Linked DNA regions of Homo sapiens. The protein of the gene in region 1 interacts with the protein of each later gene in a pairwise test. Each region holds a gene or a part of one and is shown in the gene's direction. Other genes may lie near its edges. The genes, in order: HAO2, ABCD2 and PECR.

Region 1 (3,658 bases):
AATTTGGATTATTATTCCTATTTCAGATGAAGTGACTGAGGCTACCTTACTCAAATTTGCACAATTAAGAATTTTCAGAAAATTTTTCTAAGTTTATGTGCAAAAATAATAATATTGTATAAACAATGAAAATCTTAGACACCTGAGGCTAAGTATGCATTTATTTAAAAAGTGTGTTTTGCATATTTATTATTTGTAAATTCTCCTACCTTCTTCTAAAGCAGTGTTTAAGTCAAATCTTCAAACTAACTAGCCTCTATCACAAAAGCCTCAATCACTCCCTGGGATTTGTTCTCATTCAGTGACCTTTTCTTACTTTCTGGAGACTTGGGCCTAACCTGAGAGGAAAAGAGACTGGAACCTCTTCCTACCTATTCTTTTCTTTTTAGTCCTTGTTATGATGAACCAAACCATCCAAGTGCTGCAGTGTAGTCTGGGAGGCATGACTCAAAGACACAGACTTCTGACAGAGCAAAGCAGGAATAGTGTGGACTTGGTATGCACAAAGTGGTTCAGAGAAGGTTGGGAAATGGGGAATGAGGTGTTGGAAGCGGCTTTCTGGAGATAAGTCTCCTCCTGGATCAACATAGGTTACTCAGCTCTCAGCCAACTGAACCCACCAAGGTTCCACAGGACCCTGTCTGGTTTAGACTTGTATCAGGAATCAGGGGGGTCCACCCCAGACAACGCCTCCCTGCTGCAGAATCATCTCACCAACAGAAGATCTCTTTGTTGTCCGGCACAGAATTCGCCTCCGTCCGCGGTACCTGAGAGATGTGTCTGAGGTGGACACCAGAACCACAATCCAAGGGGAGGAGATCAGTGCCCCTATTTGTATCGCACCCACAGGGTTCCACTGCCTTGTCTGGCCTGATGGGGAAATGAGCACAGCAAGAGGTATGAACCATCCCCACCTCGAGGCTCCTTTCCGGGAGGAGGTGTCCCTCAGAGCAGTGGCAGAGGCTCCAAGATTCTCTCTAGAAGGGCCTTAGGAACATAATCTGGTTAACACTAAGGAAGGCAGGAAAGGGAATGCTTAAAGCTACGTTTGTGTAACCTAAGATTGAGAAAACATTCATTTTCCATAATAAAGAATAGTTAGAGTGCAAGGGGGTTTACAGATGAATAAGAAGGTGCTAAAATTTAACCAAGTCATCCCTCAGAACAGGGGTGCTGGCCCTTCTGGCTCACACCATCTGTAGGGAAAGGGATGCTTAACGCAGCCCCAAGGCTAGGGCCCTCTTTGGCCCCTGATGGGCCAGGGCTAGGGCTGAATGGCAGACTCTGAATTTAGGATGAGGAGAGAATCACGACATTAGGTCCTAACACAAGGCCCTGGAAGCTGCTGTTGCCCAACTATTCCATTTTCCTTCTCTTCAATTGACCTTGTCATCTTGTTTGACAAAGATTTTATTGTTGGGTTACATCTCCTTCCCAGTCAACCTAATTCTCATCCCACATTCTCCACCACCACCACCACCACCACCACCGCCAATAATAATAATAATAATAATAAATAGAAAAGGAGAGATGGGGCTGAAAATGCTCTTGGGACTCTTTCGTAATCTTCACTCTAAGTCACATCTGTTTTTGTGAATTTCTCAGCGCTTCCCTGAGGTCTTTTCCTTTGACTCCATGATGAAGGAAGCTATGGATTCAAGGATTCTAGAGCTGAATGTGACATCCATCTTGATGGGGTCTAGGGACCAGGTCTAGCTAGGTTGAGATATTAATATCCTATATGAATGTGACTAGTTTACTAAGTCATCATGGTTGAATGTGTTGTTTGGGGGTAGGATGAAAGAATGGGGTATCTCCTGTTGACATGAAAAATTGAAAATGTTAATTTTTGATTAGCCCAAATTCTCTGCCCATGAGTTATAGTGGGACAGTGACATTAACCTGTTGGAGATTTCATTGAAATGAATAAAGTAGGAAATGGGAAATCTGCCAGTCAGCAGCAGCCATATGAACGTCATCACCATCAACTTCATTAGCACTGGTATCTATGCAGTACACCACTTTGCAATGTAAAGAATGCTGCCATAGCTAGTATCTTATTCAGTCTCCCAACAATCCTAAAGACATGTATTATTATTTTCCCTATTTTACAGATAAAGAAAATGAGAGACTCAATGCCACACAGCAAAGAAGGGGTAGAACTAGCATTCTTCTAATTTCATATGCTATGCTTTTTCCACCATGAAGTTCAGGATTCTCCACTGGAACTACATTCCCTCATCCTCTGCCCTCTCTAATTCTCTTCTGCTTCATTAAGGAGTTCATAAGAGGCCCAGTTGCCTGTCTGAAGGCTATAACACAACCAACATGATTCTGGAGATTGCATGGCATCTTTAGCTGGAAATATTTTGTTATCGAGTAGAGGGTTTGTAAGACAGGTTATACAGAGGAGAACCCAAAAAGGTTTAGGTCTCTCAGCCTGATCAAATTGCCTTCCATCCCTTTCTTACAAGGAAGCAGAATGAAATTAAGCTTTATCTGCATTCATGGGGCAAGATGGCCAGAGGCTACACAGACTCCCAAGGTTTTCAGCCCAGTCCAGAGGCCTCTGCCCTCCAGCCTGAGTCATGTCCTTTGCTTTACAGCTGCCCAAGCGGCTGGTATCTGCTACATCACCAGCACATTTGCCAGCTGTAGCCTTGAAGACATTGTCATTGCAGCTCCCGAAGGCCTCCGATGGTTCCAACTCTATGTGCATCCAGACCTGCAGCTGAACAAACAGTTGATCCAGAGGGTAGAATCCCTAGGTTTCAAAGCTTTGGTAATAACTTTGGATACACCTGTATGTGGCAACAGGCGACATGACATTCGAAACCAGTTGAGGAGGAACTTAACACTAACAGATCTTCAATCACCTAAAAAGGTAAGAAAGATACCAAATTCGATGGACAGGCATTACAAGAGGCAAATTTCCTTCCCTCTTTTCTCCTTTCCTCCATTCTTTCTTTCCACAGGCATTTATCGAACACCTGCTCTGTGCCAGACACTGCGGATAAAGCAGTTTCAAAAAGCAGATATGGTTCCTGCTCCCTAGAGTTTCCAGACAAGCACAATCAACATAAGACCAAATGTTCTCACCCTTGGAGCTGCCCAACTTGTCACCAGAAGTGTTCTGGCCAGAGCTGGATGCTGAGAAATAGGAAAGCCACGGAAAATATTTTTGCACGAACTGGAGAGTAAACTAAAAAAGTTCATGTAACATTTTCTACTTTATGACACACTCAGAAAATGCTAATTTTGGATGGCATACATAGACAAACTGACTCTCCAAAGGGGATGTTCATGACCAAAGTGACTGGCCAGACAGTCTAGACAGGCCAGGTTCTACCTTACTGCCTTGAAACTGAGGAATCAATATCTCTGCACACATAGAGCTCATTTGTGGAGCACCAGGATGCTATAGCACATTTGTTTGTAATCTCTGAACTAGGTGACTACAAAGGGGACCTTCCCCATTAAAATCCTACAATTAAATGGCAAGAAGTGCCTCAGAGAGAGACAGCCATGATAAAGTGGGAATCCCTGGCTATAGTAGAGATACTAAAGCCAGCCTTTTCAACCAGTGGGCAACTGTGACACCAAGCCAAGTAACTCAACAGTTCTCATTAATCACAGATTGGCCTTGAGGTGCTCCAAA
Region 2 (3,658 bases), on another chromosome or scaffold:
CCAGGCTGTAAATTTTCTAAACTTTTATGCTCTGCTTTCCTTTCAAACATAAGTTCCAATTCCAAATCATCTCTTTGTGAAGCATAAAACTGAACACTTTTAAGAGCACCCAGATTACATCTTAAATGCTTTGCTGCTTAGAAATTTCTTCTGCCTAAATCATCTCTCTCAAGTTCAAAGTTCCATAGACCTCTAGGGCAGGGGCAAAATGCCACCAGTCTCTGCTAAAACATAGCAAGAGTCAGCTTTGCTCTAGTTCCCAAGAAGATTCTCATCTTCATCTGAGACTACTTCAGCCTGGCCTTCACTGCTCATATTACTATCAGCATTTTGGTCAAAGCAATTCAATAAGTCCCTAGGAAATTCCAAACTTTCCCACATCTTCCCATCTTCTGAGCCCTCAAAATTGTTTCAATCTCTGCCTGTTACCCAGTTCCAAAGTCACTTCCACATTTTTGGGAATCTTTTTTTTTTTTTTTGAGACAGAGTCTCACTCTGTCACCCAGGTTGGAGTGCAGTGGTGTGATCTTGGCTCACTGCAACATCTGCCTCCTGGGTTCAAGCAATTCCCTGCCTCAGCCTCCTGAGTAGCTGGGATTACAGGCACCCGCCTTCACGCCCAGCTAATTTTTGTATTTTTGTGGAGATGGGGTTTCACCATCTTGGCCAGGCTGGTCTTGAACTCCTGACCTCATGATCCACCTGCCTCAGACTCCCAAAGTGCTGGGATTACAGGCATGAGCCACCATGTTAGGCCTGGGTATCTTTATAGCAGCACCCCATCTACCAGTACCAATTTACTGTATTAGTCTGTTTTCATATCGCTATAAAGAACTGCCCTAGACCGGGTAATTTATAAAGGAAAAAGGGTTTAATTGACTCACAGTTCAGCATGGCTGGGGAGGCCTCAGGAAACTTACAATCATGGTGGAAGGCAAACGGGAAGAAAGGCACCTTCTTCACAAGGCAGCAAGAAAGAGAACGAACACAGGAGGAACTACCAAACACTTATAAAACCACCAGATCTCATGAAAACTCACTCATTATTATGAGAACAGCATGGGGAAAACCACCCCCATGATCCAACTGCCTACGCCTTGTCTCTTCCTTGACACATGGGGCTTATGGGGATTACAATTCAAAATGAGATTTTGGGTGGGGATGCAGAAAAACCATATTATTCATTAAGCTTACTTTAAAAACAACTATTTTAATTTTTTTGTCAGGCAGGTCAAACATCTCCATCTTTTTAGAGTCAGTCACTGGCACTTTATTCTGTCCATTTGGTGAGTCCCATTTCCCTGATTGTTCTTGATCCTTCTGGTCATGAATTGATGTCTACACATTAAAGACCTAGAAATTTATTCCAGTTTGCATAGTCTAGCTTTGTCTGAGAAAAGTTCTTTGACAGTAAGCCTATCCAGAAATTCTAGGCAGGTCACCTGTTGTGGTTTCTAAGATAGTGATTGCTGCAGCTATTGCAACACCAAGAGCACTCTAAGCCCAGGACGATGGTGGATGGTGCAGTGTCAGGGTGGAATCCCTTGACCACCAAGGCTGGCACAGTGCTGAGCTGAAATCTGAGCCCCCAGCCACTGAGTCCTGCCTGCCACTGTGGGCTATTTGGAGCCCATGGCTTCTATAGTTTGTTGGTTCGTGGTGATGCAGACCAGAAATTGAGTTTGTCTGACAGGGACAACAGGTTTCTGTCTGGCACTGAGGCAGGTTCAGAGGCTCAGTCTGCAGGTACCAGCAGAAGTGAGGGTCTGTAGGAGTCTGTCTAGTGCTGGGTTTTACTGTGGCAGGCCTGGTAGTGTGTTCCAATGCAAACTCTTATGCTTACATCCCTCTCTTTTCCCCAAGTAGATGGTATTTCTCTCTGAGCTGTGCACTTTGTGGTTGGGACATGGGTGACTTGGAGAATGTAAAACTGCACTTCCTACCCACTCCAATGACTATTTTCTTATTAATATTCTGTAACCAGATACTGTGAACTCTTGCCTGGTTTCCTTAGCTTCTGTAGAGGTAGAGGTATTTTTGTGTGTAGGTAATTTTGATGTTTTCCTGCAAGCGGATGATCACTGTAGAGTCCTATTCCACCATCTTCCTCCACCCTTTGTGCGTTGAAATCATTTGTATAAGTAAAAGAAGTCAGTCACAAAAGGCCACATATTCTATAATTCCATGTATATGAAATGTCTATAATAGAGAAATCTATAGAGAGAGGGGAGATTAGTGGTTGTCAGGGGCTGGGTGGAAAGGGAAATGGAGAAAGACTGCTGATGGGTATTGGGTTTCTTTTGGGGTTGAAGAGAATGTTCTGAAATTACTGGTGATGGTTGCATGAGCTTGTGAGTATGCTAAGAATCATCGAATTTTACGCTTTAAAGGATGAACTTATGGTATGTGAATTATCTCTCAATTTTTTAAAAAGCAGGAGGAAACTGCTTGAAAAAAGCCCACCGATCATAGTTAACAATGACAGACCAGATCTTAAAAGGAAGCAAGAAGTGAGAAAAACTATAAGGGAAGGCAGAAAAATTGAGGACACATAAGAATATAGGCCAGTTCAGCAGTGAAAAAATGCAGGTGGTTCAGCCATGCAGGACCAGCTCTGCCAACTTTTCTTTCACCAAATATCCCCCACAAAGCCGACAGAATGGTGACCTCAGCCTCCTTTAGGACAAGGTGGATCATCTCCTATCTCATCAGTAAAATAATCTCTGTACCTCTGTGAAGTTCCTAATTATGAAACTGAGCCATAAGAAAGAGATTAAATCATATAAAAATGTGGAAGTATCTTTAAAACATTTCTTCTATCAAAGAGTTGTTTTTTAAAATGTTTTTAAACTATATTTATTATTGAGAAAATTTTACTTATGCAGAAGAACTCATTCCCAAAGGATGGTGTATTAATGAGTTGCTATTGTATTTCCTTTATTTTCCTTAGTTTTTCTATGACCTTTTAATGTTGATTTTCTTTCCTCAGCTTCCTTTCCTTACTCCCATCCTAAGAATGCCTTACTATTTATTCAGGAGCCAAATTGAGTTATGAAGAAATTAAATACATGCAACAGCATGTCTTCCTTTACAGTTAATATACATCCAGAATATGAAAAAAATAATAATATTTTCCTAAAGATCAGATTAATGACTTTTGGGTTTTAAAAAAATCACAGTATTTAACTTTTTGATATGTCCTTAAAACTCAAATGTAAAATAGCACCTACTTAAAATTTGCCTTTGGGTATCAATTTGAATGATAAACCTACAACTAAAATGATTTTTCAACATTATGGCTAATAATATTATTTCATTTTAATTATGCAGGAAATACCACACACATTTATTACAGTTTGATGGTGAAGGAGGTTGGCGCTTTGAACAATTGGATACTGCTATCCGTTTGACATTGAGTGAAGAAAAACAAAAGCTAGAATCTCAGCTAGCTGGAATTCCCAAAATGCAGCAGAGACTCAATGAACTATGTAAAATTTTGGGAGAAGACTCAGTGCTGAAAACAATTAAAAATGAAGATGAGACATCTTAATTTGTTTTGACATATTTTAAAAGTTAATTATTAGATAAAGGCTCAAAGACATTCTGTTATACTGCATGAAGTATGTTAAGCTAAGCACAGAGAAAAAAAGGCAGCAAG
Region 3 (3,119 bases), on another chromosome or scaffold:
GGCCGGAGTCTCTATACTCACTCGTATGAGGTACCAGGTGAGCAGCTGAGGAATGAGCAGTCACCAGCTTTATGCTGTGTCATGTTCAGGGGTTTAAAATTTATTATAAGTAGTTACTTAAGAGATGAGGGTGCTCTCTTATAGAACATCAAAATGTACAAAATGTTTATATTCATGATGTGATTTTTTTAATGAAATATTCCTAGTCACAGAAAATATCTAACTATCTATATTATGGAACTGAGCTTTTTGTGCATGCATAGGTTGGTGGAATTTGAACCCTGAAAAATATTCTCAGTATATGTTTCGAAAGAGGAGACAGAAAAGAGGCAAGAGCATGCTATAGTTTTAAAGATTTAATTCCATTTTGTTCCTCCAGTAAATGGCTTACATATCTGAGCAGAAGAATCAGGCCTGCTAGGTGGGGTGGGGTGCTATGGTGCTATTTTGTGCTCTCTTTGAGATATATATTGAATGAAGGCATATGAAATTTCTGTATTCATCATTTTTGATGTACAAAAACAGAAATTTGGCCGGGTATGGTGGCTCATGCCTGTAATCCCAGCACTTTGGGAGGCTGAGGCAAGTGGATCACTTGAGGTCAGGAGATAGAGACCAGCCTGGTTAACACAGTGAAACCCCGTCTCTACTAAAAATACAAAAAAATTAGCCAGGCTTGGTGGCGGGTGCCTGTAGTCCCAGCTACTTGGGAGGCTGAGGCAGGAGAATGGTGTGAACCCGGGAGGCGGAGGTTGCAGTGAGCCGAGATTGTGCCACTGCACTCTAGCCTGGGCGACAGAGTGAGACTCTTATCTCAAAAAAAAATATATATATATACGCATACATATATATGTATGTGTATATATATACATACATATATACGTATGTGTATATATATATACACATACATATATACGTATGTGTATATATATATACACATATACGTATGTATATATATATACACATATACGTATGTGTATATATATATACACATATACGTATGTATATATATAACAGTTAGTCGGGTGTGGTGGCGGGCACCTGTAGTCTCAGCTACTTGGGAGGCTGAGGTAGGAGAATCACGTAAACCCAGGAGGCGGAGATTGCAGTGAGCCAAGATCATGCCACTGCACTCCAGCTTGGGAGATAAACCAAGACTCTGTCTCAAGAAAAAAAACCAGAAGTTTTATAAGTTTAAATCAAATATTGATATTACATGCAAATGCCTTTATGTGTGTGTGTGTCTCATGACTAGATAACAGAACTTTGCGGTTTGAAGGGTCCTAAAAGATCACAAAGTCCAGTATCCTAGTTTTATAAACAACAAAACAAATCCACAGACGTTAAAAGGTTTATCTAAGCTAATAACTCTAAATCACTCCAAAAATGTAGTAAAGGGTATAAAATGCAAATGTATTGAATTTCTGTTGTTAAAGATAATTAAGTGGCTACTAGCAAATTAATAGATGGTTGATGTAACCCAGGTGAATCTGAATTTCATATCAAGGACCCAGGGTCTACGTACTCTTTCAGGTGCTGACAGTCTGATCAAGGCTTAAGGCCTTTTTTGCGTTAATAAATGATTGGTGTATGTGAGAGGCGAGCAAAAACTCAAACTGGTTTTCCTCTGCTCTCACAACACAACAACCATTAGCACGGAAGACTTCTGTGACCAGTTGTTTGGGGTTACTTCCCCCGCACAGCAACCAAGCAAGCAGTTCTGCAGCAGACCCCAGCTGGGCGTCCTCTCATTCAGTTCTGACACTGGAGATAGGATCAGATCCCACAGGCTGAGGGCTCAGTCCCACAGGATGCCCCCTGCTTTGGACACCATCACAAGTCTGGGCCTCTAAAACTTCTGACTGACTAGCTTCAAGTTGGGGTTCCCACGACCCCCTCTTTGGGTTGGAGTAATTTGCTAGAGCAGCTCACACAACTCAGGAAAACACTTCGATTTACTGGTTTATGATAAAGGATATTACAGGAGATACAGCCGAAGGGGTGCACAGGGCAAGGCATGTGAGAAGGGGCACGTAGCTTCTGTGTCCTTTTTGGCCCCACCACCTGCCAGGAACCTTCATGTGTTCAGCTATCTGGAAGCTCTTGAACCCAGTCCTTTGGGTTTTTATGGAGGCTTCATTACATAGGCATGGTTGATTAAACCATCAGCCACTGGTGATCAACTTAACCTTCAGCCCCTCTTACCTCCCCAGAGGTTGTGGGGTGGGTATGGGCTGAAGGTCCCAACCCTGTAATCATGCCTTGGTCTGTCTGGTGACCAGCCCCTATACTGAAGCTAACTAGGGGCTGCCAGCCATCAGTCAATCATTAACATATAAGAACACATCACTTTGGCGAGTCTAGGATATTAGGAGTTGTATGCGGGAGATGGGGTTGAAGACCAAATATATGTTTCACAATATCACAGTATAGAACTTTAATTTTACTTATTATTTTCCCCTCCCACATGTATTTCATTACTAATAACATCAATGTGGTGATGTCCATAGGATACTGTAGTTTTAAGGGTCTTGGTTGGAAAGAAGAAATACCTACATGGTTTTGCCATATTGTTTTCTGAAAAAAATTCCAAGTAGTGAGGGTGGAGAGAATCTTTCCACTTCTCTCACAGTAGACTTCAGTCACTATTTCTTATCGCAGGTTGCACTGTTTTACCTTTAGAAGGGAAAGAAATTTCAAATAGCTTCTTCCTTAGGCCTTCAGTGACATGATTTTCTTTTGTAATTCTAACACTTTTTATCATTAAAAATATTTTTTTCAGTTTTTGAGGAAAGCGGGTACATCTATCTTTTAAGAATATACTGCCCCCCGAATAATGAGATTATTCAGCCTTTCACTATGGTGTTTTCTTTTAAGATTGGCAGCTCCAAGGTGAGAATGCCTAAGATGGAAACTTGGCTCTACCCTTATTAGCCGTATGATTGTGAGAAAGTTAATTTCTATAAGCCTCTATTTTGTTCCTGTATGCAGGGACACATACAGTATTTATTTCATAGAGCTGTTGGGAGGATTAAATTAGATAAGGGACTTTTTCTTTTCTTTTTTTTTGAGACAGAGTCTCACTCTTGTTGCCCAGGCTGGAGTGCAGTGACATGATT

What was found.
Region 2: the proteins of HAO2 (region 1) and ABCD2 come close enough for resonance energy transfer, tested with the Homo sapiens proteins (one large-scale study listed by BioGRID).
Region 3: the proteins of HAO2 (region 1) and PECR come close enough for resonance energy transfer, tested with the Homo sapiens proteins (one large-scale study listed by BioGRID).

What each region holds. Positions count from the first base shown.
Region 1 is NC_000001.11:119,382,170-119,385,827, forward strand, and holds part of HAO2 (2-Hydroxyacid oxidase 2), read left to right. Parts: intron 1-745; coding exon 746-897; intron 898-2,606; coding exon 2,607-2,884; intron 2,885-2,975; coding exon of another isoform or gene 2,976-3,017; exon of another isoform or gene 3,018-3,658. UniProt on the Homo sapiens protein: Oxidase that catalyzes the oxidation of medium and long chain hydroxyacids such as 2-hydroxyhexadecanoate and 2-hydroxyoctanoate, to the correspondong 2-oxoacids.
Region 2 is NC_000012.12:39,553,804-39,557,461, reverse strand, and holds part of ABCD2 (ATP-binding cassette sub-family D member 2), read left to right. Parts: intron 1-3,330; coding exon 3,331-3,550; 3' UTR 3,551-3,658.
Region 3 is NC_000002.12:216,040,822-216,043,940, reverse strand, and holds part of PECR (peroxisomal trans-2-enoyl-CoA reductase), read left to right. Parts: coding exon 1-37; intron 38-3,119. UniProt on the Homo sapiens protein: Participates in chain elongation of fatty acids. Catalyzes the reduction of trans-2-enoyl-CoAs of varying chain lengths from 6:1 to 16:1, having maximum activity with 10:1 CoA. Has no 2,4-dienoyl-CoA reductase activity.